7 linked regions of the Homo sapiens genome follow. The protein of the gene in region 5 purifies or fractionates together with the protein of the main gene of each other region. This does not show direct contact. Each region holds a gene or a part of one and is shown on either strand. Other genes may lie near its edges.

Evidence for each region.
Region 1: the proteins of SLC12A3 (region 5) and ABCA3 purify together in Homo sapiens (affinity purification with mass spectrometry; one large-scale study listed by BioGRID and IntAct). This does not show direct contact.
Region 2: the proteins of SLC12A3 (region 5) and DNAJC18 purify together in Homo sapiens (affinity purification with mass spectrometry; one large-scale study listed by BioGRID and IntAct). This does not show direct contact.
Region 3: the proteins of SLC12A3 (region 5) and LRIG3 purify together in Homo sapiens (affinity purification with mass spectrometry; one large-scale study listed by BioGRID and IntAct). This does not show direct contact.
Region 4: the proteins of SLC12A3 (region 5) and GUCY1B1 purify together in Homo sapiens (affinity purification with mass spectrometry; one large-scale study listed by BioGRID and IntAct). This does not show direct contact.
Region 6: the proteins of SLC12A3 (region 5) and KLHL3 purify together in Homo sapiens (affinity purification with western blotting, with the first as the bait; one study listed by BioGRID). This does not show direct contact.
Region 7: the proteins of SLC12A3 (region 5) and CDKAL1 purify together in Homo sapiens (affinity purification with mass spectrometry; one large-scale study listed by BioGRID and IntAct). This does not show direct contact.

What each region holds. Positions count from the first base shown.
Region 1 is NC_000016.10:2,299,229-2,303,371, forward strand, and holds part of ABCA3 (phospholipid-transporting ATPase ABCA3), read right to left. Parts: intron 921-4,143; coding exon 777-920; intron 305-776; coding exon 175-304; intron 1-174. UniProt on the Homo sapiens protein: Catalyzes the ATP-dependent transport of phospholipids such as phosphatidylcholine and phosphoglycerol from the cytoplasm into the lumen side of lamellar bodies, in turn participates in the lamellar bodies biogenesis and homeostasis of pulmonary surfactant.
Region 2 is NC_000005.10:139,426,026-139,430,168, forward strand, and holds part of DNAJC18 (dnaJ homolog subfamily C member 18), read right to left. Parts: intron 2,659-4,143; coding exon 2,513-2,658; intron 333-2,512; coding exon 147-332; intron 1-146.
Region 3 is NC_000012.12:58,910,117-58,914,259, forward strand, and holds part of LRIG3 (leucine-rich repeats and immunoglobulin-like domains protein 3 isoform 2 precursor), read right to left. Parts: intron 3,941-4,143; coding exon 3,866-3,940; intron 1-3,865. UniProt on the Homo sapiens protein: May play a role in craniofacial and inner ear morphogenesis during embryonic development. May act within the otic vesicle epithelium to control formation of the lateral semicircular canal in the inner ear, possibly by restricting the expression of NTN1.
Region 4 is NC_000004.12:155,796,661-155,800,803, reverse strand, and holds part of GUCY1B1 (guanylate cyclase soluble subunit beta-1), read right to left. Parts: intron 928-4,143; coding exon 730-927; intron 1-729. UniProt on the Homo sapiens protein: Mediates responses to nitric oxide (NO) by catalyzing the biosynthesis of the signaling molecule cGMP.
Region 5 is NC_000016.10:56,863,712-56,868,006, forward strand, and holds the start of SLC12A3 (solute carrier family 12 member 3), read left to right. Parts: upstream 1-1,495; 5' UTR 1,496-1,524; coding exon 1,525-1,806; intron 1,807-3,358; coding exon 3,359-3,505; intron 3,506-4,295. UniProt on the Homo sapiens protein: Electroneutral sodium and chloride ion cotransporter, which acts as a key mediator of sodium and chloride reabsorption in kidney distal convoluted tubules.
Region 6 is NC_000005.10:137,634,693-137,638,835, forward strand, and holds part of KLHL3 (kelch-like protein 3), read right to left. Parts: intron 2,704-4,143; coding exon 2,602-2,703; intron 1-2,601. UniProt on the Homo sapiens protein: Substrate-specific adapter of a BCR (BTB-CUL3-RBX1) E3 ubiquitin ligase complex that acts as a regulator of ion transport in the distal nephron.
Region 7 is NC_000006.12:21,226,314-21,230,456, reverse strand, and holds part of CDKAL1 (threonylcarbamoyladenosine tRNA methylthiotransferase), read right to left. Parts: intron 2,654-4,143; exon of another isoform or gene 1,629-2,653; intron 1-1,628. UniProt on the Homo sapiens protein: Catalyzes the methylthiolation of N6-threonylcarbamoyladenosine (t(6)A), leading to the formation of 2-methylthio-N6-threonylcarbamoyladenosine (ms(2)t(6)A) at position 37 in tRNAs that read codons beginning with adenine.

The sequences.
Region 1 (4,143 bases), about 55 Mb from region 5:
GAGGAGGGCAGTCCCTGCTTGTGCCCCTGGGCCTGCAGGGCTGAGGTGCATCTCCTGCCGCTGTGGTTGGGGAAGGCCCGAAAGCCCCATTGAGGGAGTGAGGCGGGGCTGGCGCTGAGATGGTGTTAAAGGGGGGCCTGCTGGTGGCAGGGGCGTGAGGCGCCTGGCCCTCACCTGTGAGCATGGAGAGGGTGGTGGTCTTCCCGGCACCGTTGTGGCCCAGCAGGACGGTGATCTGTCCCTCGTACAGGTTGAGGTTCAGGTCTCTGACGGCCGCCCTGTCCTTATTTCCCACCCTGAACACCTGCAGGAAAGGCAGAGGCTGCCCTGGGCTACCCACAGCCCCGAGGCCCACGGCCAAGGCCTCTCCTGCTCCCCTGCCCGACCGTCTCAGAAGGAACCAAGCCTAGCGTCACCATCAGTGTGCAGAGGGGAGGGACGTTTCGGGCAGATGCTGCTCCTGGCTGCTCCCCTCCGGTCTCCCCCAGCCCCAACACGTCCCAGACACCCTCAGTGTCTCTGCAACCCTGGGAGGCCCATGAGGCCGAGGCACTGCTGGACGGCTGAGTCTGGCATTTCCTGAGAAGCTGGAGATGTGGTCTGTGCCCTGGGGAACCGGTTAGAGGGCAGCGGAGGGTTCCTGCCCTCCTTCAGGGCAGGAGGGAGCAAGGCTCAGAGGGAGCGCCTGACGGGCTATGAGGTCTCACTGCCGTGCTGGTAAGTCTTCCCATGGTCCTGGCAGCCCCGGCCCTCCCTGTCCCCACAGGAGGCGGCACCTTGGACAGGTGCTTGATCTTGATCCCCGCCACCAGGTCCTCTGGCTCGGCTTCAAAGTACTCGTTTCTGAGTGCTTTCTCGGGGTCACTGTCTTCTTCCTCCTTCCCTGCAACCGCCCTTGGCTTCCCACACCAATAGGAGGGCTGGGAGGGAAGCAGACAGCTGTCAGTTTGTTTTGTTTGTGACGAGCAAAGCAACAACCAGCAGACACACTAGATGCACACAGCCATGCAGCCTCTGTCCCAGGACTTCGAGGCACTGCTGTGGAGAAGGCGCTACTCAGGGAGAGCCCCAGAGAGTCCCAACTTGTTTCATCCCTGTGAAGGCTCTAAGCCTCAGTTTCCTAACCTGGTAAGTGGGTGTAATGGTTACATACAGGCTTGTGAAGATGAACTCAGATCCGATACAGGGCAAAGGGAGTTTGTCAGCTATGAAATTTCATAGACAGAAGTTATCTAACGCTCCAGTCCAGAGGGATGTTGGAGCCAAAATGGAAAGAAAGCTGTGTCCCCATGCCACCCGGCTGTTTCTTTGCTCAAGCCCCACATGAGTTCATGACTGTAAGCAAGAGAAGCCGAAGGCGCCACGCCTCCCTCTACTATGAGGAAGCCTCTTCCCATCTTCTCTGTGGCCATCACAGAAATAACTCAGTGCATGGGGTAAGAACACAGGCACACACCTCACACAGTGCCCTCGAGGACAGCCTGGTGCCTACATGGAGGCAGTCGACACAGTGGTGCGGGCAGAGCAGCAGGGAAGGTGGAAGCAGTGCCTTGGCAGGATCAGTGCCAGGGCAGCTGCGGGGCGGGGACTCGTTTACCCGCAGCTCCACGCCCAGTGCACTTCCAGCACCTGGAACGGCATCTGGCACACACTGCACTCCACTGGTTCTCAGGGACACAGCTCTCATATGTAAAGTGATTTTAAAATCAGAATGCATCTTGGCTGGGCACGGTGGCTCGAGCCTGTAATCCCAGCACTTTGGGAGGCCGAGGCGGGCGGATCATGAGGTCAGGAGATCGAGACCATCCTGGCTAACACGGTGAAACCCCGTCTCTACTAAAAATACAAAAAAATTAGCCGGGCGTGGTGGTGGGCGCCTATAGTCCCAGCTACTCGGGAGGCTGAGGCAGGAGAATGGCGTGAACCCGGGAGGCGGAGCTTGCAGTGAGCCGAGATGGCACCACTGTACTCCAGCCTGGGCGACAGAGCGAGACTCCGTCTCAAAAAAAAAAAAAAAATCAGAATGCATCTTAAACTATAAAATGCCATAGTGTAAGTGTGGCATTTTTCTTTCTTAGTGATAGACAAAGTAACCATTACCTCTAACGGTCAGTGTCATCTTACAGTTGATGGATTACAGTAGTGAACACTTGATAACTACTTGTGGAAGCAAAGAATGAAAACAGAAATGGCCTCGGCTGGAGGTGGTGGCTCACGCCTGTCATCCCAGCACTTTGGGAGGCCGAGGCGGGTGGATCACCTGAGGTCAGGAGTTCAAGACCAGCCTGGCCAACATGGCGAAACCCCGTCTCTAATAAAAATACAAAAAAAATTAGGTGCGTGTAGTGGTGGGTGCCTGTAATCCCAGCTACTCAGGAGGCTGAGGCAGGAGAATCACTTGAACCTGGGAGGTGAAGGGTGCAGTGAGCTGAGATCGCGCCACTGGACTCCAGCCTGGGCAACAGAGCTAGACTCCGAATCAAAGAAAAAAAAAAAAAAAGAAATGACCTTAACTAGCCATCGGTAGGGAATCAGTTAAGTATATGTTGATGGGCCCACAGAATGGAACACTGTGTGTCACTATAAATGAAGGTGGTTTGTTGGGAGCAAGCCCCCCAAAGTCTGGCCATAAACTGGCCCCAAAACTGGCCATAAATAAAATCTCTGCAGCAATGTAACACGTCCATAATGGCCATAACACCCAAGCTGGAAGGTTGTGGGCAAGGAACACCTGGCCCGCCCAGGGCGGAAAACCGCTTAAAGGCATTCTTAAGCCGCAAACAAAAGCCTGAGAGATCTGTGTCTTAAGGGCGTGTTCCTGCTGCAAGTAATTCGGCCCATCCATCCATTTCCCTTAAGGGATACTTTTAGTTAATGGAATATCTATAGAAACAATGCTAATGACTGGTTTGCTGTTAATAAATATGTGGGTAAATCTCTGTTCGGGGCTCTCAGCTCTGAAGGCTGTGAGACCCCTGATTTCCCACTTCGCACCTCTATATTTCTGCGTGTGTGTCTTTAATTCCTCTAGTGCCGCTGGGTTAAGGTCTCCCCGACCGAGCTGGTCTCGGCAGTGATTCTTAAAAAGGTAATACTTAGGTAGAAATATATTTATAAATATAACAACATTCATCAATATGTTTAGATAATAGTTTAAAACTATATTTATAAATAGACAAACATATATATGTATTTAAGATATCTGAGTTGTACTGTTAGGTTAAGAAAAGCAACTTGTAAGCATTTTTTACAATATGATTCTTTTTTTTTTTTTTGAGACAGGGTCTCATTTTTTCACCAAAGTTGGAGTGTGGTGGTGTGAACATGGCTCACTGCAGCCTCCTGGGCTCAAGTGATTCTTCTGCCTCAGCCTCTCAAGTAGCTGGGACCACAGGCATGTGCCGCCTGGCTAATTTTTTAAATTTTTTATTTATTTTGTAGAGATGGGGTTGCACTATGTTGCCCAGGCTGGTCTCTAACTCCTGGCCTCAAGTCATCCTTCCACCTCAGCCTCCCAAAGTGCTGGGATTACAGGGATGAGCGACTATGTCCACCCCGATCCCATTTTTTTTTTTTTTGAGATGGAGTCTCGCTCTGTCGCCCAGGTTGGAGTGCAATGGCACAGTCTCAGCTCACTGCAACCTCCGCCTTCCGGGTTCAAGCAGTTCTCCCTGCCTCAGCCTCCCAAGTAGCTGGGATTAGAGGCGCCTGCCACCACACCCAGCTAATTTTTTTTTTTTGTATTTCTTTAGTAGAAACAGGGTTTCACCATGCTGGCCAGGCTGGTCTCAAACTTCTGACCTCAGGTGATCCACCCATCTTGGCCTCCCAAAGTGCTGGGATTACAGGGGTGAGCCACCACACCCGGCCTCCAATCACATTTTTATGAAACTATGCTATATGTCCATCCATCTGTGCTCTATGACAGTAAGTGTAGAGAGGGAAACCCAGCAAAGTACATACCAAATGTCAACAGTGTTCATCTCACCAGTGGGAATGAGCTATAGATTTCAGGAATCCGAACTTTTTTTCTCTCTTTTTTTTTTTTTTTTGAGACAGACTCTCGCTGTGTTGCCAGGCTGGAGTGCAATGGCGCGATCTTGGCTCACTGCAAGCTCCGCCTCCCAGGTTCATGCCATTCTC
Region 2 (4,143 bases), on a different chromosome or scaffold from region 5:
CTTGCCTCAAACTCCTGCTCAACTGATTCTAGATCCTTGCTGTTTCCATCATACCATTGTACCTCTATTCAGATTTTCAAACAGGAGCTTGCTGAGAGCCATAAATAAAGAAATATGTTTAAGAATGATAATTTGGGGAGACTAACCTGTAGGAAAATGTCCTCCAAAGAAGACGTTGAACAGCTCTTCTGGAGTGATGTCAGCTTCAAAATCCCTGTAATAATTATAAGGTCTGGCTCGAGGGGCAGTGAAAGTCACCTGTTCATCTCCGTATTCATCATAGCGAAGTCTCTTATCAGGATTGCTCAGGACTGCAAATGCATTTCCTATTGCTGCAACCAACAAGAACCAGCACATGAGGACACAGTCTTTGCTATGGCTGAGAGTGATCACAGCAGCAGTGACAAAGAGCCTAGAGGTGACTCGTGCTGGACAACTTCGCAGGGGCCCAAGAAGAGATGCTTGGGCCTAGAAAGTTCTCCACAGTGCTTGCCCTTCAGGTTTTCCCTGATCGCCAGAAACAACAACATTGGAATCACAGGAATTAAGAACTTCTGCTGCAGTGAGTTAACTCCCAATCAACAGTCCTGTAGTCATCCCAGCTGTCCTAGAAGTTAGGAAGCCCCCCTCAGTTCGGGTTCCCAGTCACCACAAGTCCCAGGCATGTTGGGGAAATGTTCTCCAACTGGTCAGCACTCTCATTCATAAAAAATGTGTTCTGGCCAGGTGCAGTGGCTCATGCCTATAATCCCAGCACTTTGGGAGGTTGCAGTGAGCCGAGATCATGCCACTGCCTTCCAGGCTGGGCAACAGAGTGAGACTTTGTCACACACACACACACACAAAGAGTGCTCTTTACTTTAAAAAAAATTTTTTTAGAGATAGGGTCTTGCTGCATTGCCCAGACTAGTCTCAGATTCCTGGCCTCTAGTGATCCTCTCACCTTGGCCTCCAAAAGTTTGGGATTATAGGTGTGAGCCCTGCATCTGGCCAAAAAAGTGTTCTTATTTCACTTGAGTGCAATAGTTTATGTTGGAAACAGTTCACACATCAGTAGTGATATTTTAACTTGTAGTCCAAAAAATTTCCTGAATTCTCTTCTGAAACAATCTTAGTAGAAACCTTCCTGCTTGACTAAAAACAAAGTCTTCATCATAGTCTTATTTCAGTTTACTTTAGACAAATATTTTCTGAAATTAAGAAATGTATTTCCAATGTCTCAAGGAGGGTTCAAAGGCTGAATAGTTACATATGTTTACCAACATGTCTCCTTTCTATGTACAGACGTGCAAACCTTGCCCAATTTCATTTAAACATACAATCCGTAGCACCAATCAATAGAAACCTCAAAAAAAAGAAATCTTTTAAGGCATCCCGCACTCCCTACCTGTAATTCAGTCAACACTGTCAGAAACACAGAAAGAGTATTTCTTCATGATTCTTTTACCTGGGGAATTGTTAAATGTTTGCCTTGCCACTCTGTTACCTACAACTCTATATATACATATGTACATATGTATTGTAATAATTATACATTTATTTTGCTGAACCATTTGAAAATAGGCCACAGATATTACGTCACCTTGCCCCTAAATACCTCAACATATATCTCCCAAGAAGAAAGACATTCTCCTATGTGATCACAACACCATTATCACAGCTAAGAAAATTAACATCAGTCCATTATCATCCAATGCATCCATGCAAGATCAAGTATAGCATTTAGTTTCTTTTAAGCTAAAACTGTCCCACCTTTTTTGTTTTTCATTATGTTAAATTTTTTGGAAGAACAGATCAGTATTCTTGTAGAATGTTTCATATTGATTGTTTCCTCATTATTAGATTCAGGTCAAACATTTTGGCAAGAATACCCCATAGGCGACAACTACCTAGCACTCAATGGTTTTAGCATTCACTGAAGATCTTTGCCTGTAACAATGACTTGGAGTGCAGTGGTGCAATCACAGCTCACTGCAGCCTTGACCTCTGGCTCAAGCAATCCTCCCACCTCAGCCTCCCAAAGTGCTAGGATTACAGGTGTGAGCCACTGCGCTCAGCCTGAAGAATATATTTCTTAAAATATCATGGAGGATGGGCACAGTGGCTCACGCCTGTAATATCAGCACTTTGGAAGGCCTAGGCGGGCAGATTACTTGAGCTCAGGAGTTTGAGATCAGCCAGAGCAACATGGCAAAACCCCATCTCCACAAAACATACAAAAATTAGCCGGGCATGGTGGTGCTCACCTGTAGTCCCAGCTACTCAGGAGGCTGAGGTGGGAGGATCACTTGAGCCCGGGAGGTGGAGGTTGCAGTGAGCTGAGATGTCACCACTGCACTCCAGCCTAGGTAAAATCAAGTGGGAGCTATGCTGATTATCACTATTTAAGAGGTGTGGCAGGGGGAAAAAACCCTCCTTATGGCCTTATAAAACAACTATGGGGAAGGCTAAAAGCAACTTATTATGACCAACCATGACAAGGGCACCATTGAGCATTGGTTCAGGATCAGACCTTTGAAAGCATCTGTTGCTCCAGGAGCACAGTTCTTGTCAGGGTGAAATTTCAGGGCGAGTTTTCTGTAAGCTTTCTTAAGCTCTTCGTCACTAGCATCTCGAGAAACTCCCAGAATTTCATAGTAATTTCTGCATTTCTTGATCCTAAAAAAAATCACAAGCATGTATGTCTATAAAGGTCCCTTTTGTACAACTAATTGCAAGATAATACATCGATCCTACCTCCAATCTGTGGGACCCAAAACAAACCTATAAGAAAATTAGTGCACACGTTAATGAAACATTCAAATTCATTAACAATGTCCTTCTCCCACCCAGAACTTAATGCCTTTCAAAGTACTTTTACATCTACTATTTACTCTTCCTATATCCCTGCAAGTGAGTAGAACAAGTATGCTAATTGTTACACCAAGGTTCAGGCTAAGATCCTGAGAGATGAACTACAGGACAGCAAAGCCAGAAGAAACAGTTAATCACCCTGTTTGTTTATAATTTTTTCTCTCTTTTTCCTATGGCTATCTTTTTAAACTGTATTTTTTGCTTTTTTTTTTTTTTTTTTTTGAGACGTAGTCTTGCTCTTGTTGCCTGGGCTGGAGTGCAATGGCGCGATCTCAGCTCACTGCAACCTCTGCCTCCCAGGTTCAAGCAATTCTCCTGCCTCAGCCTCCCGAGTAGCTGAGATTACAGGGATGCGCCACCAGCCCTGGCTAATGTTGGTATTTTTAGTAGAGATGGGGTTTCACCATATTGGTTAGGCTGGTCTCAAACTCCTGACCTTGTGATCTGCCCACCTTGGCCTCCCAAAGTGCTGGGATTACAGGTGTGAGCCACCGTGCCTGGCTAAACTGTGTTTTTAAAAAGTTAACATACACATGATAGAAGAAAAAGAGCCAACAGAACTAAAGTTTATACAGTAAAAATTTTCCTGCTTCATCATTCCCTGTCCCCCAGTTTCCCACCACAGGGATAACCATCATTAGAAGTTTTCTGTGGATCCTATGTACAGAGAGTACAGGTATAGTCCTCTCCATTTTTTTTCTTGCCTAAATGGAAACATATTATAATCACTTTTCTACATCTTGCTTTAAAAAAAAATTATTTTGGGCTGGGCGTGGTGGCTCACTCTTGTAATACCAGTGCTTTGGGAGGCTGAGGCAGGAGGACTGCTTGAGGTGAAGAGCTTGAGGCCAGCCTGGGCAGGATGGTAAGACCCTATCTCTATGAAAAATTTTAAAAAGTTAGCCAGGCATGGTGCCTTGCATCTGGAATTCCAGCTACTCAGGAGGCCAAGGCAGGTGGATCACTTAAGCCCAGGAGTTTGAGGCTGCAGTGAGTTATGATTGTTCCACTACACTCTAGCCTGGGCAACAGAGCATGATCCTGTCTCTAAAAAACAAACAAAAAACAATTTATCTTGGAGATCAATCCTTAACATATAGAGATGAGAAGTATAGAATAATAGTTTAGACTAGACAGTAGTTTAGATTAGAGTGGCAGTTCTGAACTTTTGATCTCAGCAACGTTTTATACTCTTAAAAATTACTGATATGCATGGTACAGGAAGCGAAAAAAAATTACTGAAGACCTCAAAAGAGCTTTCATTTATATGACTTCTATCAATCCACATCT
Region 3 (4,143 bases), on a different chromosome or scaffold from region 5:
GATGGACTAAGAAATGCTTTACTTTTGAGATAAGAAATAAAGAGAAAAGGCTTAGTTGATTATGATATGACCTTTATCAGTAATTCTAGAAATATTTATGCAATATCTGATAAGAATATTGCATATGTTAAAATGGATACTCCTGGGCCCCACCCAAATCTACTAATTTAGAATCTCTAGGGATAGTGTCTGATAATCTAACCAGCACCCTGGCAGGGCGCGGTGGCTCACGCCTTTAATCCCAGCATTCTGGGAGGCTGAGGCGGGCGGATCATGAGGTCAGGAGATCGAGACCGTCCTGGCTAACACGGTGAAACCCCATCTCTACTAAAAATACAAAAATTAACTGGGCGTGGCAGCATGCGCCTGTAGTCCCAGCTGCTGGGGAGGCTGAGGCAAGAGAACGGCATGAACCCGGGCAGCGGAGCTTGCAGTGAGCTGAGATTGAGCCACTGCACTCCAGCCTGGGTGACACTGCGAGACTCCGTCTCAAAAAAAAACAAAAACAAAAACAAAAAAAACAAGTACCCTAGGTGCCTCTTTGACAGTCACTGACCTAACATTCTTCAACTCTAGGACACCAGGCAAGCATCTGCATGCTGGGTAACACTATATAAACCATTAGCATCAAGACTAAGACCCAACTAGCTCCGTTTAATAACCAACAAGGCTCTTTTGTTCAACTACAATGCTGTAGAACTCACAGATTCAAACTTCCCTAACCCAAGGCACAGATTTCAATCATGTCCAATGCTCGAGCAGGTCATTCCACACCACGCAAAGCCAGAGTTCATACATTCAGAAAAATCAACTCCCTCATGTAAGCCAGGTCAATAGAGTTTTACTGTAAGATATGTTCATTCCAAAGACTATTCCACTTCTTTAAAATATGTCATCCTGCAATAGCTAGGATATTGTGAGAGAAAAATTTAAAAAACATACAAATCATGCCTTGCACCTAGCACACTGGTTGACTTCTGAGCTAGTTCTGTGTGGGATTCAAAGGAAAGCATGTCTATTCAGGCCTTGTGCATGCTAAAAAGGTTAGAGATGAGCTTTGTTAGTGGGAAGATTATCGCAGATTCCTATCATCCCAGATTCCCTGATATTATGAGAATAGGTCCCTAACTGAATTTGTCTCTGGACATGCGGTACCCTTTGATCTAATTATCAGCTCCTGGCTCCTATAGCTAAGAGAAGACAAAAGTCTCACCAGGACAGTCTTCTCTGCATGCAGCCCCTCCAGCTGGGAGGGGTCTTCATGGCACAGAGTAGAAAGAGTATGGAGCAGTAATATTAAATCCTATGGTTAAGACTTCAACTAATTACTCATTTTCTTTACACACAAGCTTTCAAACTATTTAACCTGTGCAAATAACTCATAAAAATGTTTTCCTCTGCAAAATGTAAAAGATACAAACAAAAAACAACCACAAAAAACTCTTAATATGAAAGTCAAATCATTCTAAAAACTACTTTGAAAGATATGAGATTTAATTGTGACGCTACAGCAAGTTTTCAATCTGTGTCATGTTATATAACTTAACAGATTTTTTTTAATCTCAGAAAAGCATTTAAGAACTCATTTTTAGCTTTATTTTCAAGTGTTTTTATATAAAAGAAAATGTTTTACTCTACACAACACAAATTAAAAGTGCTTGAGAAACAATAATTGTATATTACAATATCCAATCAAGCCTGCAGGAGGAAACAAAACATTCGTAGATGAAAACAACCAGAGAGGTAAATTTTTCAAGATATTTCATAGGTATAAAAAGAAGTTTTTACTCTCCACATTGAATTATCAGGCCCATGATATAAATTACTCTTCGCAGAGTCTATGTAATCTAGGTAACACATTGGATGTATCATTATGTGAGACGAACAAAGCAATCACTGGCCAGAGGTATTGTAACACATTAAGGAGAAAGAAAGTGAAATTATTCAGGGTGATTTCACACCCAGCACTTGCTAAAGTGAAACACAAAAACAATATGGAGAAGAGGACAAATTTTAAAGGAGCACAAATTTCTAACTTTTGAGAGATCATTGTAGCTTTCTAATTATAAGTTATAACGTTAAAGTGTAAAACACTAGGGGCTGGGCGCAGTGGCTCACACCTGCAATCCCAACACTTTGGGAGGCCGAGGCGGGAGGATTACGAGGTCAGGAGATCGAGACCATCCTGGCTAACACGGTGAAACCCCCTCTCTACTAAAAATACAAAAAACTAGCCGGGCGTAGTGGCGGACGCCTGTAGTCCCAGCTACTTGGGAGGCTGAGGCAGGAGAATGGTGTGAACCCAGGAGGCGGAGCTTACAGTGAGCCAAGATCGTGCCACTGCACTCCAGCCTGGGCAACAGAGCAAGACTCTGTCTCAAAAAAAAAAAAGTATAAAACACTAGGTTACTTATAATTTTCTAACTTCCTCACAAGTTCTTAATGCTCTCAACGCTATACCATGCCAAAGAGTAGACTGCTTTCCCCATGCTGCCCAGATTACAAAACTGCACTGCAGATCCTCTCAGCCATGAAGTATGCCATGACCCTCAAGCTCTCTTAAACATACTGACAGAATCTGCCAATATGCAGTGCGAGGACAGCAAGAGCAAAGTGGAATTTAAAAAGGCCACCTTGGTCAAACAAGAATAGCTGCAGATGTTTACGATACCAAAACCAGCACTCCATTTAGATTCTAAAATTTTAAGCAATTGTAAAAGACAAAGAAAAAAGGTATTTATGCTAGCATAAAAATGTTTTTTAAATACAGTGTTTATTTGTCAAATACCGACTGCTTTTTCTTTCACTCCTTTCTGTTTCTGATCTTTGGAAAAACCACATCAGTATCAAATGTCACTTAGCTCTTATTCAAACAGAGGAAAGCAGACACAGCGGCTGCACCCGTGACTTAGCTGACCTGGGCCCTCAGTAAAAACAAACCTCTATAAATCACCAGATGTAAGCAATTGGGTAGTGATCACTCTATTAATTGAACAGCTTTCCTGAAATTTACTGTATAATTTCAACCCTCCCAACACCTCTCTCAGAAGCAACTAACAATGGTGGTTTTTTCCTTAAGTTGCTTAAAGAAAAACATTTTTTAACATCAGTAGCTTAAATATATTTTTAAATTATTTAAGATTAAGGTGGTAAGCTAATTAGATTTTAGAAATTAAACCACAGGCATTCTAAATGCTACCTTTAAATGCTGAAAGTCAGAATTATTCCAAAACCTACGTCAGTGCATGTATATACAACGTTACCTACACTAAAAATACAGAAAACTTGGTACAACCTTAATTGTATTTGAAAACTCATATTTGCAAAACAACCTGCAAAGTTATTTCTGTCTTCAGTCACATATTTACTTTTTTTGAGTTGATGTCTCTGAACTCTGATTTACACTGCAGGTACCACACTTAAAACAGGATACTCCAATGGCTTATTCTCAACTCCGGTTTCTCCTCACAAAGCAACTCTGATCATTCTCCACTAGGAACTACGTAATACATAACCCACAGATCCCCATGCCAACCATTGAGCGATACTAAAATTAAAGTCCTAGTCTACAGAATACGATAAAATACACATTTCTATGGTGTAAAGCTGGCCTCTTTGAATCTCGAAGACCAGTTCGGCAACAACAGCAAAGTGTAAAGTGTGTTGTTATAAGAATACATGAAATTTAGCAGTGAGAGAGTTAGAGGCTAGAAAACAAGTTAACCAATTTAAAGCGCGTATCTTTACTATGCCCTGAAAAAAATATTCCATTTTTTTCTTCTAAGATCTCTATGCTAGTCCCTATGGAACTCCCACTCAAGGTTCCTGCAAACATACATGAGGAATTCTGCTGATATTCACTTACAAGGAGAGAAGTGTAATATTTGCCGAGACTGGTCCCAGATTTGGAATGGTCTCCAATTCATTGTTGTTCAGTTTCCTACAAATGCCAAAAAAAAAAAGAAAAAGAAAAGCTGATTAGGTAATCTGTAATTCACAGAGGTGAAAACTTTACATATTATTTCAAGATACCACCCAAGTTAAAAGTTTTGAATAACTCACTATAATCCAAGTATTCCTTACGGTTAAATAGTATAAGGGGTAACGTATTTTACTCAAACCTTAAAAACAAAATAACGAAGA
Region 4 (4,143 bases), on a different chromosome or scaffold from region 5:
ACCTGGGTAAAATAGCTTATAAATGTCAGTGATGTGCGTTTAATTAGCATATGAAAGCAAGGCCAAGTAGTATGCATGCTATGTACTTACTTAAATACATTTCTTGAAAATCAAGTATTATCTTTCATGTCCTTGCTCAATATTTCATAATTGAATCCACCACTCATAGAAATGTTTTATATTTTGATATTTTTGCTAATGTATGTCACTATAGATGTAATTGTTGTCATTACATATAATATTACAATTTGTCAGATTCATTTCTTTCTAATCCTAAATTCAAGGTCCCAGAAAATAAATTTTTAAACATGTAATGGCCAGTGGTTAAGTTCATTGTGCAGAGCAGCTCTCTGCACGCGGCAGCCCCCAGCATACTGAAGATGGTCAATATATAACTCTTGTATGAAAGAATGCAGGAATAAATGATAGTTAAACTTCAATTTTTGAACTAAATTTGAATTTGAGTTATTCTCATGATTTTCCAAAAGATATTTTGGCCTATATTATTCCAACTTGGCTTCTAAAAATAGCAGACATATTTCCACCACCATTAAGACTGGTTTATTTCCTTAAGCATAATTTCTTTTTAAAAGCAATGTGAAAGATTTTATTTACTACACCAGAGCTATTACAGGTCACATGGCTTTTTAGTCTGGTTCTCAAACTTAAATATAGTAGAGTCACATTATGTTATGAATAACAGTAGTGCTCCAAGCGTTACATTCTTACGTGTCTGTCTTTTTCTTTTCATCTTCCAGGGCTCTTAACGTGAGCTGTAGCCTGTCAGTGAGGATTTCCAGTTCTTGGGTGAGTTTGTATTCCTCTCTAAATTGTTCTCCCAAAAGAACAAGATCGCGCGTGGCATCATGCAGAGGGATGTCACTTAGATACAGCCCTCTCCTTGTCAAATCGTCCAGGTTCATGACACTGTCATATGGAGAAATGAGGCAAGATCAGTCTCAACTTATATACATGACAATGCAATCCCGATTTCTGTCAAGGAATCTGATCCTGCCACCTCCTACCATTCAAAACATCAGGCTGAAGACAATAGAATTATGGAGAATTGAACGAAGATTGTGAGTTTATTCTCTTAGATATTTAAGCATCTACCAAAAAGCAGTGAACTTGAGATGCATTTTTGCCAGGTTGCACTTTTTGGTGCCATCAGTCTAAATTGAAACGATCATGTAGAAAACATCTCTATGATAAACGTTGAGGTATTTAACACAGGCTGTAATTTATTATTCTCAAATTTTTTCTCATCATAAGGAGAGGAAAAAAATCTATCTTTATTCTCTCTCTCAAGAATAATAATGCTTCTTTTGAGAAACTTTCATTTTGCTTTCTGTATTCTATGAATCTTGTAACTGCTTATTTTTCCCTTTTGGAAACAATGAGTAAAAATTCCCAACCACGTTTATGACCCAGCCTCAGCATGTAATTTATGTATCTAAAACTATGTGTCATTCTTACTTCTGGCTCTCATGTCTTCTTTTTACTTTGACAAATTTTTCTCATTTATTTGAAACATTATTCAATCCTGCTGAATTTTATGCGTCATCATTGTAACTTGTGTCATTTTTCCAACAACATAATAATGTTTATTATTTTAGTGATAATCTGACAAGTAAAAAGTTAACTGCTTTTTAAAAATGTACTCTTTGAGGCTGGGCACAGTGGCTCACATCTGTAATCCTAGGACTTTGGGAGGCGAGGTGGGCAGACCACTTGAGGCCAGGAGTTCAAGATCAGCCTGGCTAACATGGTGAAACGCGTCTCTACCAAAAATACAAAAATGAGCTGGGTGTGGTGGCTAGCGCCTGTAGTCCCAGCTACTCGGGAGGCTGAGGCAGGAGAATTGCTTGAACCCGGGAGCAGGAGGCTGCAGTGAGCTGAGATCATGCCACTGCATTCCAGTCTGGGTGACAGAGCGAGACTCCATCTCAAACAACAACAACAACGACAACAAAACCTAACTGGTTAAAATGGCATAAGGTTATATCTTTGGCTTGAATTTTTTTAATGCAAAGTCATTACTTCTGGCCACTCTGAATAATAATTACTCTAAAAGGAAAAAATTTAGTTATGTCTTTGGAGAATCTGGGATTAATAATTTGAAGAATTTTGAATTAATCCTATCCAAAATTCTTTAAAAGGGGTGACTTTGCAGAATTTTGGATTAATGCAATATATTCTCAGCAGCAATGTTCATAAAGCAAAACAAAAATTAGCATACCTATAAAGAAAATAAAACAATCAAAGATTTTACTAATGAAATACACGGTGTCTTTTAATTTCGTTAAAATGGATATGTAAATCCACTTGCAGAAAAAGACACATCTAGAAAGAAGCCAGATCATCGGCCAAAGGTATACGAGACCTGCCCATGAGCAGAGAAAAAACATGATTGTACGTTCAAAAATGAATGGTCAAAAATGCTCATACTGAGTTACAAAACTTAAATCATAACGGTCTCGTGGTTCTAAAAATGCCCTATATCATTATTTTAATGAACCATTAAGTTTTTTCTAAATTCAAACTAATCATCTTAGAATTATTTTACAAGTAAAACTACTTTTACTTGATCTTTGTTTATGTAGTGTGAGTACAAATCTTCCTACACACCTGAGCATGTCTCATAGGACAATCTGCAATTTTCTCACTGGGTGACCAATGTCTGCATATGGGAATTAACAAATAAACTCCAAATTTTCTGCTTTTATTTCTGAAGAAAACCTTTCTTTCCATAAATAGAAATTGCCCCTAATGAGAAGCTGACATTCTCCTAAGCTCAACCTGTGAAGAGGCAGAAGAAGAAAACACTTACTGATAGCAGATGGGACATCTTTAGATCAATGTAGCTTAATAATTTTTTTAAAAAGCGTTTATGTTTCTTAGTTTTGTTTCTTTTATTTTCCTGATATTTATTTCTCAGGGAAAAGACATCCATATCCTTATATTATCTGATATATTATTCTTATATGTCATAGTTAAATAATATTTAATTAATCTTAAATGTACTTAAAAATTAACGATATATTATTATTATTATTATTATTATTATTTTGAGACAGTGTCTTGCTCTGTTGCCCAGGAGTGCAGTGGCATGATCTCGGCTCACTGCAACCTCTGCCTCCCAGGTTCAAGCGACTCTCCTGCCTCAGCCTCCCTAGTAGCTGCAATTACAGGTGCCCACCACCACTCCTGGCTAATTTTTGTATTTTTAGTAGAGATGGGATTTCACCATGTTTGCCAGGCTGATCTTGAACTCCTGACCTTGTGATCCACCCACCTCGGCCTCCGAAAGTGCTGGGATTACAGGTGTGAACTACTGTGCCAACAATATATTATTCTTATTTGGCCTTATATATTATTGTTATGTAATGTATAATACAATAGTAATAATATAACAGGAGGTTGTTACAAAGTGTATTACATTTTTCAGAAATTTTAAGACCACATTTTTAAGTGAAAAGTGATCATGGTGGAATTCAGATTAAATTTTTAACCAATAGCTCACCAAAACATGCCTTCTTGACTGTGTTACTACATAATGCACCTACACTTTGTTTATACAAAATTATGAATACACAGAATATCATCTCACAATAATCCCCACAGTTATCTTTTCTATTGTTCTGAAGCAAATTTAGACATAATTTTTATATTTCTGAATTCCCATGTATCTCCTAGTAAAATGCTTTCCTAAATTGGAAAACAACAATCTATAGTTTTATTTTTCTCTGACGTTTATTAAAAATCACATTTTACATACATTTTAATTGAATAATATATTTGGAACAGTGTATTTGGATTAGAGTAGGTAAATATTTTTAATTTAAAATAGTTCAAACCCAGAAAGAGACCTTTTAGATTTTTTGCTAACATACTATAGAAAAGATAATTTTTGATGTCAAATATACCAATGTATTTATTATGCCATCCTATTAGCTGCTTTAAAAAATCACTTTTCTACATAATGCCTATTTTGAAGGTCCAAAACTATAGAATTAGCTTAATGCAGATTATTTGTCCCATGGCGTAATGGCATAAACACTCCACAAATGTATTAAGACATGGCAAATAACATAGAGTATGTGATTTCTTCTGAGTTTATTAGCAAATATTAAATAAGATTAT
Region 5 (4,295 bases):
ATATACACATCTTTTTAAATATTATACCAGCTAAGCGCAGTGGCTCACGCCTGCAATCCCAACACTTTGGGAGGTGGGAGGCTGAGGTAGGAGACTCACTTGAGTCCAGGAGTTTGAGACCAGCCTGGGCATCCAGGGTCAGGTGGTTGGGGTGACTTGAGACCCCATCTCTACAAAAAGTAAAAACAAATTAGCCAAACATGATGGTGTATGCCTGTGGCCCCAGCTACTTGGGAGGCTGAGGTGGGAGGATTCTTGAAGTCTGGTGGTTGAGGCTTCAGTGAGCTGCGATTGTGCCACTGCACTCCAGCCTGGGTGACAGAGCCAGAACCTGTCTCAAAAAAAAAAAAAAAATTATATAATTCATCTATTCAAAACTACTAAATAATTTTTTTTTTTTTTCGAGACAGAGTCTTGCTCTGTCGCCCAGGCTGGAGTACGATGGTGCGATCTGGACTCACTGCAACCTCTGCCTCCTGGGTTCAAGCAATTCTCCTGCCTCAGCCTCCCAAGTAGCTGGGACTACAGGTGCCCACCACCATGCCCAGCTAATTTTTGTATTTTTAATAGAGACAGGGTTTCACCATGTTGGCCAGGCTGGTGATCCATCCACCTCAGCCTCCCAATATTAAATAAATTTTTTAAATCCAAATACTAATATGAGAGGTTTTTGAACTCTCATAGAGTAGGACCCAGAGTGTGTCCTCAGGCTAAGGGAGGACACCACCCCTCATATTGTCTTATGCCCAGTTTCTGCTTCCAAAGAAAGAAAAAGTAAAAATTAAAAGGCAGAAATGAAATCCACAAGCAGACAGCCCGGCGCCACACCCTGGGCCTGGTAGTTAAAGATCGAGCCCTGACCTAATCGGTTATGTAATCTATAGATTACAGACATTTTATAGAAATGCACTTTGAAAATCCCTGTCCTGTTTTGTTCCAATCTAATGATCGGTGCATGCAGCCCCCAGTCACGTACCCCCTGCTTGCTCAATCAATCACGACCCTCTCACATGCACCCCCTTAGAGTTGTGAGCCCTGAAAAGGGACAGGAATTGCTCACTCTGGGAGCTCGGCTCTTGAGACAGGAGTCTTGCCGATGCCCCCCGGCCGAATAAACCCCTTCCTTCTTTAAGTCGGTGTTTGAGGAGTTTTGACTGCAGCTCGTCCTGCTACAAAGCCACCAGGCTATCTCTAGGATCCCTTATGGGGCCCCTCAGGGTCCTCTCTGACAACTCCTTCTTGGGTCCTGGCTGAAGATCTCTGCTGCCCCCAGACTCAGAAGAGCCACTCCAGGACTCAGGGAGTGGCTGGCTTTGGGCCAGCCCAGCCCTCCAGATCCAAGGCGGGTCCCCTATCTCCACAATCAAATGGTGTTCTGCCTCCGGCCCTGTCCGGGGACCCTGCTCACCAGCCACGGGCGGTTTAGGCCAACCTCCCTGCCTCCTCCCCAGTGCAGACGCAGCCTATAAAACCACCCTGTGTGTCCTTGCGGATCCTGGCCCCTCCCTGGACACCCAGGCGACAATGGCAGAACTGCCCACAACAGAGACGCCTGGGGACGCCACTTTGTGCAGCGGGCGCTTCACCATCAGCACACTGCTGAGCAGTGATGAGCCCTCTCCACCAGCTGCCTATGACAGCAGCCACCCCAGCCACCTGACCCACAGCAGCACCTTCTGCATGCGCACCTTTGGCTACAACACGATCGATGTGGTGCCCACATATGAGCACTATGCCAACAGCACCCAGCCTGGTGAGCCCCGGAAGGTCCGGCCCACACTGGCTGACCTGCACTCCTTCCTCAAGGTAAGTGCTGTCTCAGAAGACTGGCCACTTCCCTGCTGTGTGACCTCGACCCAGCTACCTAACCTCTCTGAGCCTCAGTTCTGTCATCTGTGCCATGGGGATGGAGGAGCGTCTTCTTCCTGGGTTGAGAGGCCCCAGTGAAATAGTGGAGCTGCAGAAATCTGGGCACATGTTGGAATGTATATTAGCCAATCACTAGCAACCCAAAGCTAGAGTGGGAGGCCTAGAGAGGTAATGAGCTTCCAGTGAGTAGAAGCATGCAAGCAGGTTGCACACCCCTGAAAGAGACAGGGCAAGAAGGGCCTGGGAAGGTTCACCTCAGAGAGAGGGCTCGCCGGGTTTGCTGCCCGGGAGGCTGGACTGTGAAGAGTGGAGGGCTGGAAGGTGGATTGTCATGACCCCTGTCTGGCCTCACTTTTCCCATATGACAATTGGGCTGAATTGTTCTTTTTTCTTTTCTTTTCTTTTCTTTTCTTTTTTTTTTTTGAGACGGAGTCTGGCTCTGTCGCCCAGGCTGGAGTGCAGTGGTGTGATCTCGGCTCACTGCAACCTCTGCCTCCTGGGTTCAAGTGATTCTCCTGCCTCAGCCTCCCGAGTAGCTGGGATTACAGGAGCGCACCACCACACCCAGCTAATTTTTGTATTTTTAGTAGGGATGGGGTTTTGCCATATTGGCCAGGCTGGTCTTGAACTCCTGACCTCAAAGGATCCACCCACCTTGGCCTCCCAACGTGCTGGAATTACAGGCATGAGCCACCACGCCCAGCCCAGAATTGTTCTTGATTCTGAGGCTAAGACTTACTAAATTCGCAGGCCTTTTCTCCACCCCAGAGCAAACCAAGACATGGCCCTTGGCTCCATACTGAGATGAAGTGCCAGGAAGAAAGCCCCAGAGGAGGGCGTCAGTCACTTGGGGCACAAACTAGGAGACCTCCCAGTGCCCCAGAGGTAGAGGCCTGGTTTCAAGACCCAGCCCTCCAGGGACCAACTATGTGGCCTTGGACAAGCTTTCACCTCTCCAGGGTGATAATAATCCTGTCGCCCATTACAAGGCTAGGCAACTGCCTAATCACTTCTAAGGCCACTGCTCTCCTAGGGGGAGGAGGTGTTATGAGCAGGAGCGCCCAGGACTCCCAGTCTCCCATGGCATCTGATCTTGGATCACTGCAACCTCCACCTCCTGGCTTCAAGAGATCCTCCTATGTCAGCCTCCTGAGTAGCTGGGACCACAGGTGCACACCACCATGCCCAGCTAATTTTTGTATTTCTTAGTAGAGACAGGGTTTTACCTTGTTGCCCAGGCTGGTCTTGAACTCCTAAGCTCAAGCAATCCACCCACCTTGGCCTCCCAAAGTGCTTTTACTACAGGCGTGAGCCACTGCTCCTGGCCTAGGGAGCATTTTAAAAGCCCCTCAAGCAGCTCAACACCCAGTGGGCTGAGGGGTCGGGGGGTGCTCGGTATGGGGCGCAGTGGTGCAGGTCAGTGGGCTGGATGCAGAGACGCCGTCCCTAGCACCCCTACCTGCCTGACTTGTGGTCTCTGGGCTGCCAGCAGGAAGGCAGACACCTGCATGCCCTGGCCTTTGACAGCCGGCCCAGCCACGAGATGACTGATGGGCTGGTGGAGGGCGAGGCAGGCACCAGCAGCGAGAAGAACCCCGAGGAGCCAGTGCGCTTCGGCTGGGTCAAGGGGGTGATGGTGAGTGGGGTGTGGGTGGTGCGTGATGTCCAGAAATGGGGGTGGGGTGGCAGAGCTCCATCCAGGCTCAGCTCTGACTCTCAGGCCCTGGTGGGGCTTCAGTTTCCCCATCTGTACAATGAATTCAATGAGTTAATAGATCAATAGACAATAGATTAAAGCCTGCCGGGGAGTAATTAGAAGAAACTGTGTTTCCCTAAAAAGCCACCAGGGGGCTGCACTAAACACACAAATCCGTAAATGTGTTTTTCTCCTCCATGAAGGGAAGGAAAAGGTTTGCTATAGTGAGGAGCAGGATTAAGTTTCCAGACAGTAGACAATCAAGGACACTTGGCTTTGGAGACATTATGGGACTTTACAGAGGGGATCTTATGGGATGTAGAAGGCTTTAGCCCTGCTCCGGGAGGCAGGAGGCTGGGGTTCTGATCTTAACGCTGCCAACTGGCTGTGCCTCCGTTTCTCCATCTGAACCACGAGCCCTCCCCGACCCCCAGATGCTCTTATTCAGAGCTGGGATCTCCCTCCTGGGCTGTGTTGCCAGAGCCGGGAACGGCCCTGCAACTCAGTGGGGCCAGCGACCACACCAGCCCCTCCCACCTGGAAGCTTCAGCCTCCATCTCGGCCTCTGGCTTTGCTTTAAATTTGGAAGCTGAAGTCACAGCCACCTGAGCTCTGATATCTGCTCTTACATGGGGCGCTGGCTCACCTGGCATTTGCTGAGCTCCCTGTAAATGCCAGGCTCTGGATCAACTGCTGACCACTGGGGCCATGGTCGGGGCTGGCAGACACA
Region 6 (4,143 bases), on a different chromosome or scaffold from region 5:
GGAGTGTTCTTTGTACATTGTGGGCCAGGGTGGCTGGAATTTTTCTGCAGACTACCCTGTGATCTCTGAGCCATGCACAAGAGCCCTGAGGTGCCGTCATTTACTTTTAAATTAAAATACCATTAAGCTGCTACCCAAGAGCATCATTTCTGCCTGGGGCTGGGGGCTGAGGGCTGAGAGTGAGGTTGGACACAGGAGGAAAAATTTGGCATTTGAGCTATCCCAAAGCAGAAATTCAAACATTTTGGGTTTAAAATTTAGTCTTAAAATGCAATGGGATGGTCTCTTCTGTGGGAACAGGGGGAGGAGTCACACTAGCTGTAGACTAAATAAATATCACCAAATGCAAATCTATTTAACAGGATTACTTACTCAGTAGATTTTTTGGTCACATGTGCTTTCTTGATGGACAGACACCAAGAATACTACTAGTATTTGAAAATCTGCAATTATTTTAAGTTAGAAAGATTCTCAGGCTCAAACCTATACTCTGCTACCAGAACTACTGCTGTATTATCAAATATAAAAATGTTTTTCTTCTATCATCATCGAGCCTGGCTTTGTTTTCTGCCCCAGGGTCCTCTCAATTGACCCATCTAAAAGAAAGAAACACATCGTCCTCAGTTCTGCACTCACCAAAGTCAAAATTTTTTAAAAACCTGACTAAGCAGCTCTTCTAGGGTCCAGGCTACTTGCATGGTATGTGCTGGTTCAGATGCGAAATATCCATAGCACACTCTCTGCTCTCTTAGGAGCTTCTGCCTACACTCCAATCCACAGAGTCTTTTCCTAAATAGGTATTCTTCGAGGCAGCCAGTAGCAAATTATTGTGATTTCCTCCATTTTTTTGTTCAGTGTCATTCAAACTGTATAGCCATGGTAATGAGATGATGAGAGGGAGGAGAGGAAGCCAGACAGTGTGGAGAGCTGTCTCTTCAAGGCCACAGTGAAGAAGACAGAGTCCACTTAAGTCCCTCCCTCAACATTCTCACCACAGCTGTAAATTGAACTCTGCTGCCCCAGGGTGCCCACAGCTGAAAGAGCTTCAGATTCAGGAAGGGCAGAAGAAACAAATTCCCAGCCTGTCTTCCACGTCAACAGGGCATGCTACAAGACAGCACTTCTTCCACATACAGAACATGCTCACAAAAGCCTTTGTCAAGGGGAGTATTTTAAATTACCACCATTATGGCACCTCCTCTAACCCCCATCAACCATTCCATCTGCATCAGCTGAAAAAATATGCACTCAAGGTTCCTCCTTGAGTCTATTAACAGGGATTTGCTATTTTTAACCCCTACTCTATTGTTTGATATTCCTGGCTAAGGAACAAGAGAAGAAATGAGAAGGTGGCTAGACAAAGCACTTACACTTGGCAGACAAATCAATTTCTCTTCCACCAAGAGAATGAGATTGCAAGATACAATTTACCTTGGTAGGAGGACAAAATCCTTGCCCTCACATAGATGACTTATTTAGTATGTTAGAATAGTACACCTTTAAATGAAAACTTAAATTACACAATACCAGTGCAGACTGAGAAATACAGTGTGAGAAAAGAATCTTTCTATTAATGTCTAACTCGCTGGATGTTACACTCACCCCAGGGCACATTTGTGTTTGCATGTGTATTTCTGAGTGTGTACATGAGAGATGGAATGTCTGCATACACGTCTGAATGAACAGATATTCCATCTAAATTCCCACATTACTACAAGTTGATGAATCAGTGTTGTCCTGCAAATGACAACATTTTAGTTCAAGTAATATTCTATGCTTTGGTACATTGAATTCACACATATTTACAGAACTCCTACCTACTGGCATTTGTCAGCATTTTGAAGGAGCATAGCACAGTGGAAAGAACACCGGCTTAGGAGTCAGAAGACCTGGGTTCAAGGACAGGCTGTGTTATTTACTGTCATTGGAATGTGGGACATCTGGAGGATGGAGAGAATCTGAGGCCTGCCTATCTCCTTCACAAGGGTTTTGCAAACAAAACAAGAGACTAGAAATGAGAGGTTTTTTTACAAACAAAAGTGTACCATCTGACCAGGCCCTAGACCTCACCACTCCCTCCTACCTTACCCTACACAGCTTTCCTGACTAGAACTGGACTCAATCACCAGCCTGCCCTGCAGAGAGTCATCAGACCTAAGAAGAGGTGCCTACCTCACTCACAGTTCTGTTAATGTTCAACATATGAATATGAGGACAAAATTAATTAAGCACATTTAACTCTCACTCTACTACATTATCCTCCTGGGTTATATGCTGAATATGGATTCCCTACTCCCTTCCCTTCCCCAACTTCTAGCAGAGCTATTGACACAGGGCCAAACCACAGGCCGGCATTTCCCCTCTAGGCTCCTTCTACTCCCCCAGCCCAGCTCCAACATTTAGCAGCCTTGGGCCAGGAGCTCCACCACCTCTCTGAGTCTCAACTTTCCTCATCCGCTAAATCAGGATAATAGTACCTAACCCAGAGGAGTGATCTCAGGAAAAAAAACACGGTAGAGGAAGCACCAAGCATGATGCTGGACCCAGGACAAGGCCCGTGGGCCAGGTAGGCCTGGCCACTGGCCACTGCCGCCTCCTTACCCTCCACAACGCCCACACCCACACTGCTCCGCCGCGTGTTCATCGGGGCCACAAAGAACCACTCGTTGGTCTTGTAGCTGTAGGCTTCCACCGATGCTAGGCCTGGGAGACAAGAGACTCATGAGACTTCCGTGGCACCAGGCCTCACCCTGCTGTGTGAGAAGCAGTGAGGATGGGGGAGGAGTCCAAATGCATGGGCTGGAAACCTAAATGTATGGCTCAGTACCACCTCTGCATCACCATGCGGCCTGTGGCAACTCCCTGAAACACATCTGCAGTGTCTGCCTGCAGGGACTATTAAGACTTGACTCAGAGAGTGGGCTGTGAAAGGACAAGGGGTGTGTCTGAAATGCATGGCAAATGTAGATCATAAAAACCGCAGAGTGGGATACTTTGATTCCAAGTAGTCACCTGAGGTAGCCTCACTGAACACCTATTCCAATCCCCTTTCCCCCAGCTTCCTCTATCTTAGCAGTGGAAAGCTAAACACTTGCTTCCCAAGACTCCCTTGCAGCTAGGCGTGACCAAGTCAATGAGACCTAAGCAGAAGTCTACGGGGATTTCAGAAACAGCCTTTGCTTTTCTAATATAGATACCATTCCCCTTTTTGATTCTTGCTACCTGGAACACAAATGTGTTGGCTGGAGGTATAACAGCCATCTCACGATCATGAGAAAAAGGCCAAGAGAATCTTAAAGAATGTGGCCTCAATGTCCATGAGTTACTGGACCAACTCAGCAACTGCTAACCTCTAGGCTTCTTGTTTCATGAGTAAAGCAAAATCCCTCGTGTTTTAAGGCAGAGTATAATCAGGTTCTCTACTTATAGCCAAAAGTAATTCCCAAAAGAAACAATGCACCACTACCCTTTCCTTCTCTTTGTTCCACTCACTAAAGGCAGCCTCCAGAGGGGCTAAAGACCCTGGAATTATATGAGTGAGGCAAAGAGAAGGCTGAGAAAGGTCCCCAGATTGTGAAGACACAAATAAAAATTCAGCGAAGTAAAAAATACTGCTTTTTACCTCCCTGGGGGCCAAAGAATATCATATTAGTTTAATAGAGCTACTGTCTGCAGAGACATCTACCTGGCAGTATAAGCAGAGATGAGATCACCTCTCTGAGTTTATGTCAACTAACAGTTTTGGGTTGAAATTTTGAAGCTAGATAGAGTCCAGAGGCAAGGAGGCTCACCTATGGTGAAAAAGCCTGGCAAAGCTTCAGTAGGGTAGTAGAAAGGGCAACAGAAAAAATGGGCAGCCTGGCCCACTGCATGACCTGAGCCAGGTCTCTTCCAAGTGCTGGACTCAGCTCCCTCATCTGTCTAGCAAAGGGTTCAAACTGGAGACCTGAGGCACCCCCTAGCTAAGCATGCTCTCCTTCTAAGTCTCATCTTCTGAGTAAATAGGTTCCCAGACACTGGAAAGTAGGAAAGGGACTCTTCTGAGTCCTAGAAAGCCTAGTACATGGGTAGTTACATATTCTGTCTGGAAGAAGGCCTGGCTCTTCACCCAAAAGCTGGATGAGGAAGAAGAGTGGATATGTC
Region 7 (4,143 bases), on a different chromosome or scaffold from region 5:
GGTGTGGTGGCTCACGCCTGTAATCCCAGCACTTTGGGAGGCCAAGGCGGGCTGATCACTTGAGGTCAGAGGTTTGAGACCAGCCTGGCCAACATGGTGAAACCCCGTCTCCACTAAAAATATAAAAATTAGCTGGGTGTGGTGGCAGGTGCCGGTAGTCCCAGCTACTCTGGAGGCTGAGGCAGGAGAATTGCTGGAACCTGGAAGGTGAAGGCTACAGTGAGCCAAGATTGCGCTGCTGCACTCCAGCCTGGGCAACAGAGTGAGACCCTGTCTCAAAAACAAACAAACCAACCAACAACCATGGAAGCCATGATTCAGCAAACACATCCCTAGGACAAAGATTCCCAGCTGGTCTGCTGCCACAGGAGGGCTGCGCCAAGAGTGACCCACCCCACATAACCCCACACTCAGTCCCCTCAAAGTACCTTGTGTGCCATACAAATACTATCATCATTTTCTCTTCATGCCAGATAGAGAACAGGTTGGGAAACCCTGCTTGGGCAGAGCTGAGAAGCTGGGGACCTGACTGTGCAGCTTTTCTCAGTGGTTTCTGTTCACCGGCTTCTTAGCTGGTGTCCAGGGAAGCGGAGAGAGGAGCACCTGGCTATTGTCAGGGTGGCTCTAGTTTCGAAGCACAATTGATGATATTTTCACCTCGTGTACCTGCTTCAGAATCGGTGCCTCCCCCAATAACATGGGACTCCCCTGTTGAAACCTGAATAACATTTTGAGAGATGGAAGGAGGGGTGTGGAAGGAGCAGATGAGAAATGCTAGATGGAAGGAAAAATGCTAGGGCGGAGGGGCAGCCCAGAGGCGGTGCAGGACAGGACAGGAAATCCACAGAAGCACAAAGTATCTTTGAACAACCATGGTACTTTGCTCAGTCTTCCCTTCCAAGCGCTCTAGCAACCTCCTGGTACCTCTTTGGCTTCTGTTTGGGAAGCTGCATCTCAGCATGCACAGGAGAGACACTGGAATGGTGCTTTGCAGAAGGTAACAGGAACAGGAATGTGTGGGGTGGACTGAAGGGAGGCAGGAGAATGGGGTAGAAAATCCAGTGGTAAGTTGTAGCAACAGATGAAATGGGAGATAATGAGGACCTCTATCAGGATGACGGCAGAGGGAACAACAGACTTTTGATGTAGAATCAATAGGATTTGAATTCAAAGGATTGGGTAATGCAAGACACAAAGAATAGGAATGGGGAAATGAAAACAACTTCTACAGCCCAGTTTCCACAGGCTCCTATTTATATGTGATTGTGTGGGAAGAATTCTTGCTCTGTCTGTAGAAGGCTAACAGCAGAATTAACACAGCTGTTAGCCACAAGGAAAAGTCTCTCAACCATAATGACAGTGGAAGCATTATTTACTGCTGCACTCCTCAGGTATCCGGGCCGATATCCTGCTGGTCTCCCTGCACTCTGAGTCCTTCGTAAGGAGGCACACAGCTGGACAGAATGGGACCATCCTTCCCATGGCAGGGGGAGGCAAGAGCTGGAGCTCAGTGGTGCACGAAGACCTGTCCCCATCCCCAGGAGACAGCTCTCTTATGAGGGTGGCTTTTTGCGTAATATTTTGGAGTGAGGTTTATGCTGAAGAGCTTCCATTTCTATTTAAAATAGCCTCAAGATCTCAAGGACAGCACTCACATATATGTGGGAACCTGGAGAAAGAATGCAGAGTCCTTCAGCTGAATTGATTGATAGGAACTATGTGAGTTCCTCAAAAGCAGCGAGTCTGCCTAATTCATCTCTGAAATCTTGGAACCTAGCAGGCTGCAGTCACAGAGCAGGTACTCAGTAAGTGTTTAGGAATGAATGAATGAATGACTGATCGAGTGAATAATATGAGAGTGTGTATTCCAATGAGATGAGCAACCATCAAGAACATTCTCATCTATGTCTCTGGTGATCAATGTGTCCTGTGATACATTCAGGAAGCTATTCTACTTGAGTCACAAATTGTTGCCTCTAGCAATTAAACCATCACTTTATAAGTGTGGTGTTATAAGACCAGAATTAAGAGGTTGATTAATTTCTCCGAGGCCTGAGTTCTTTAACCTTTGTAAGTCATAGATGGCTTTGAGAAGACTACACAGACCCTTCCAGAAAAATATGGAAGCACATTTACATATCCACACAGCCTCGCTCACACTCTTGTCTTCAGGAGGTTCACAGATACCTTCACCCAGGAGTGGACCCAGATTTTGTGGGTCCTGAAGCCTTCTCTTTAAGAAAAAAATAATGAATACAAAATTAGGTACAGGGTCTTGGAAGGGGCCCCTCAAATTGAGAGACCCCGAAACTGGCTACACGAGCTTCAGGGAAAATCCACCCTTTTCCCTATCCCCAGTTCAGAATGCTTGACCTTGGTTCTGAACCTGTGCCATGATTAGTGGTGCCAGGCCAGGTGTCAGGCTGACCTGGGGAAGGACTAGGTGAGTCTTAAAATCTTAAGCATTTAGTTGGGTTGATAACACGTTTTGTTTTTTGTTTCATGAAGCAGTGCAGGTACTGCGCCTTCTTGGCCTGGGTTAAAATAAAAGCAAAACTCTTTGACTTCTGATGACAATTTCAGAAAATTTCTTCTCCTTTCAACTCATCTGCCATAAAATTTTGTTCAAAATAAAGTTACCTACTGAACTACCGGAGAGGATTATTTGTGGTCATGTTAAGTTTAGTCATTCTTCCTCGGGCATCCTTTTTTTCTCTCCACCCCTCAGATGTTTAACATATTTGAACATAACTGATTCATAAAGGTATTTTGGTGCTGAGCTTTCCTCCTGTGCCTGCTGGACAAGTCTGCACCCTGCATCCTGCAGAGAAGCAGAAGCATGCATATGCAGCCACAAGATTTGCCACTCTCTTGAGGATCAAGGCGGGAGCGTGACCGCGGAGCAGGAGAGGGTAAATGCATCCTGTCTCTATTGTGCTGTGCCCTTTTATTATTTTCACCTTTTACCAAATCAAGATCTTGATAAAAGGATTTTGATGATACTATTTTTAAACATAATATTTTTAAAGTTTCTCAGATGACAGAGTAATTAATAATCAGTAGCTAGCTAGCTTTGCACATTTCAATTGTCACTACCACTGAGATACTTAAGAAAAAGTAGTTTAGAAATATGGGAAATATGAGATCTTATAAAGTCCAAGATGCTCAAACATGTAAATGTACAACCATACCAGTTGAAAGCAGGGATCATGAATAGAAAATAATGTAATAAAAAGTGCTTATAGGCGAAGTGATTATAAACAGCCGATAGAAAAAGTCGACACACACACGACAAGCGTAGTTCTAGAAAGTAAACAGAGGCTCAGACCTTCCCTAAACCTTTAAAACCTTATCAAGATTGTCAATTCCTGAAATTCAATACATATCTGCATCGCTCAAAGTATCATACACCAAATTCGAATAATGTTATTGCTTATTAAAACAAACTGGGGCTGGGTGCGGTGGCTCACGCCTACAATCCCAGCACTTTGGGAGGCCGAGGCGGATCACGAGGTCAGGAGATGAGACCATCCTGGCTAACACGGTGAAACCCCGTCTCTATTAAAAATACAAAAAATGAGCCAGGCGTGGTGGCGGGAGCCTGTAGTCCCAGCTACTCGGGAGGCTGAGGCAGGAGAATGGTGTGAACCCAGGAGGCGAAGCTTGCAGTGAGCCGAGATCGCGCCACTGCACTCCAGCCTGGGTGACAGAGTGAGACTCCATCTCAAAAACAAAACAAAACAAAACAAAAACAGCAACAACAAAAAAAACAAGCTGGAACATCAACTCAGACAATTTTTAAGAACTCAAATTCTACTCAGAAATGCTTTTTTAAAAACAGAAATTTGAAACAAGGCAGGATATGACCTTTGCTTACGCAAAAGGCGTTATTTATCTGTTAAATGGAGTTATTTATCCTGTTATAATAAAGACTAAGGGGCGCACTAAAATTCCCATCGTGCATTCTGTGTTAACTTTGATTAACATGGGTTTGTCTTCCCTTGTAAATCTCACTGCTCCCTTGATTAATTTCTAAATCTACTTACTTGCTAACTCTTAAAAATAATCTACTAATTTTCAAAAGTGTAGCTTATCAAATCCTATCAAAGTAATCAATCTGTTAAAGCAGAACCAAGTATGGAT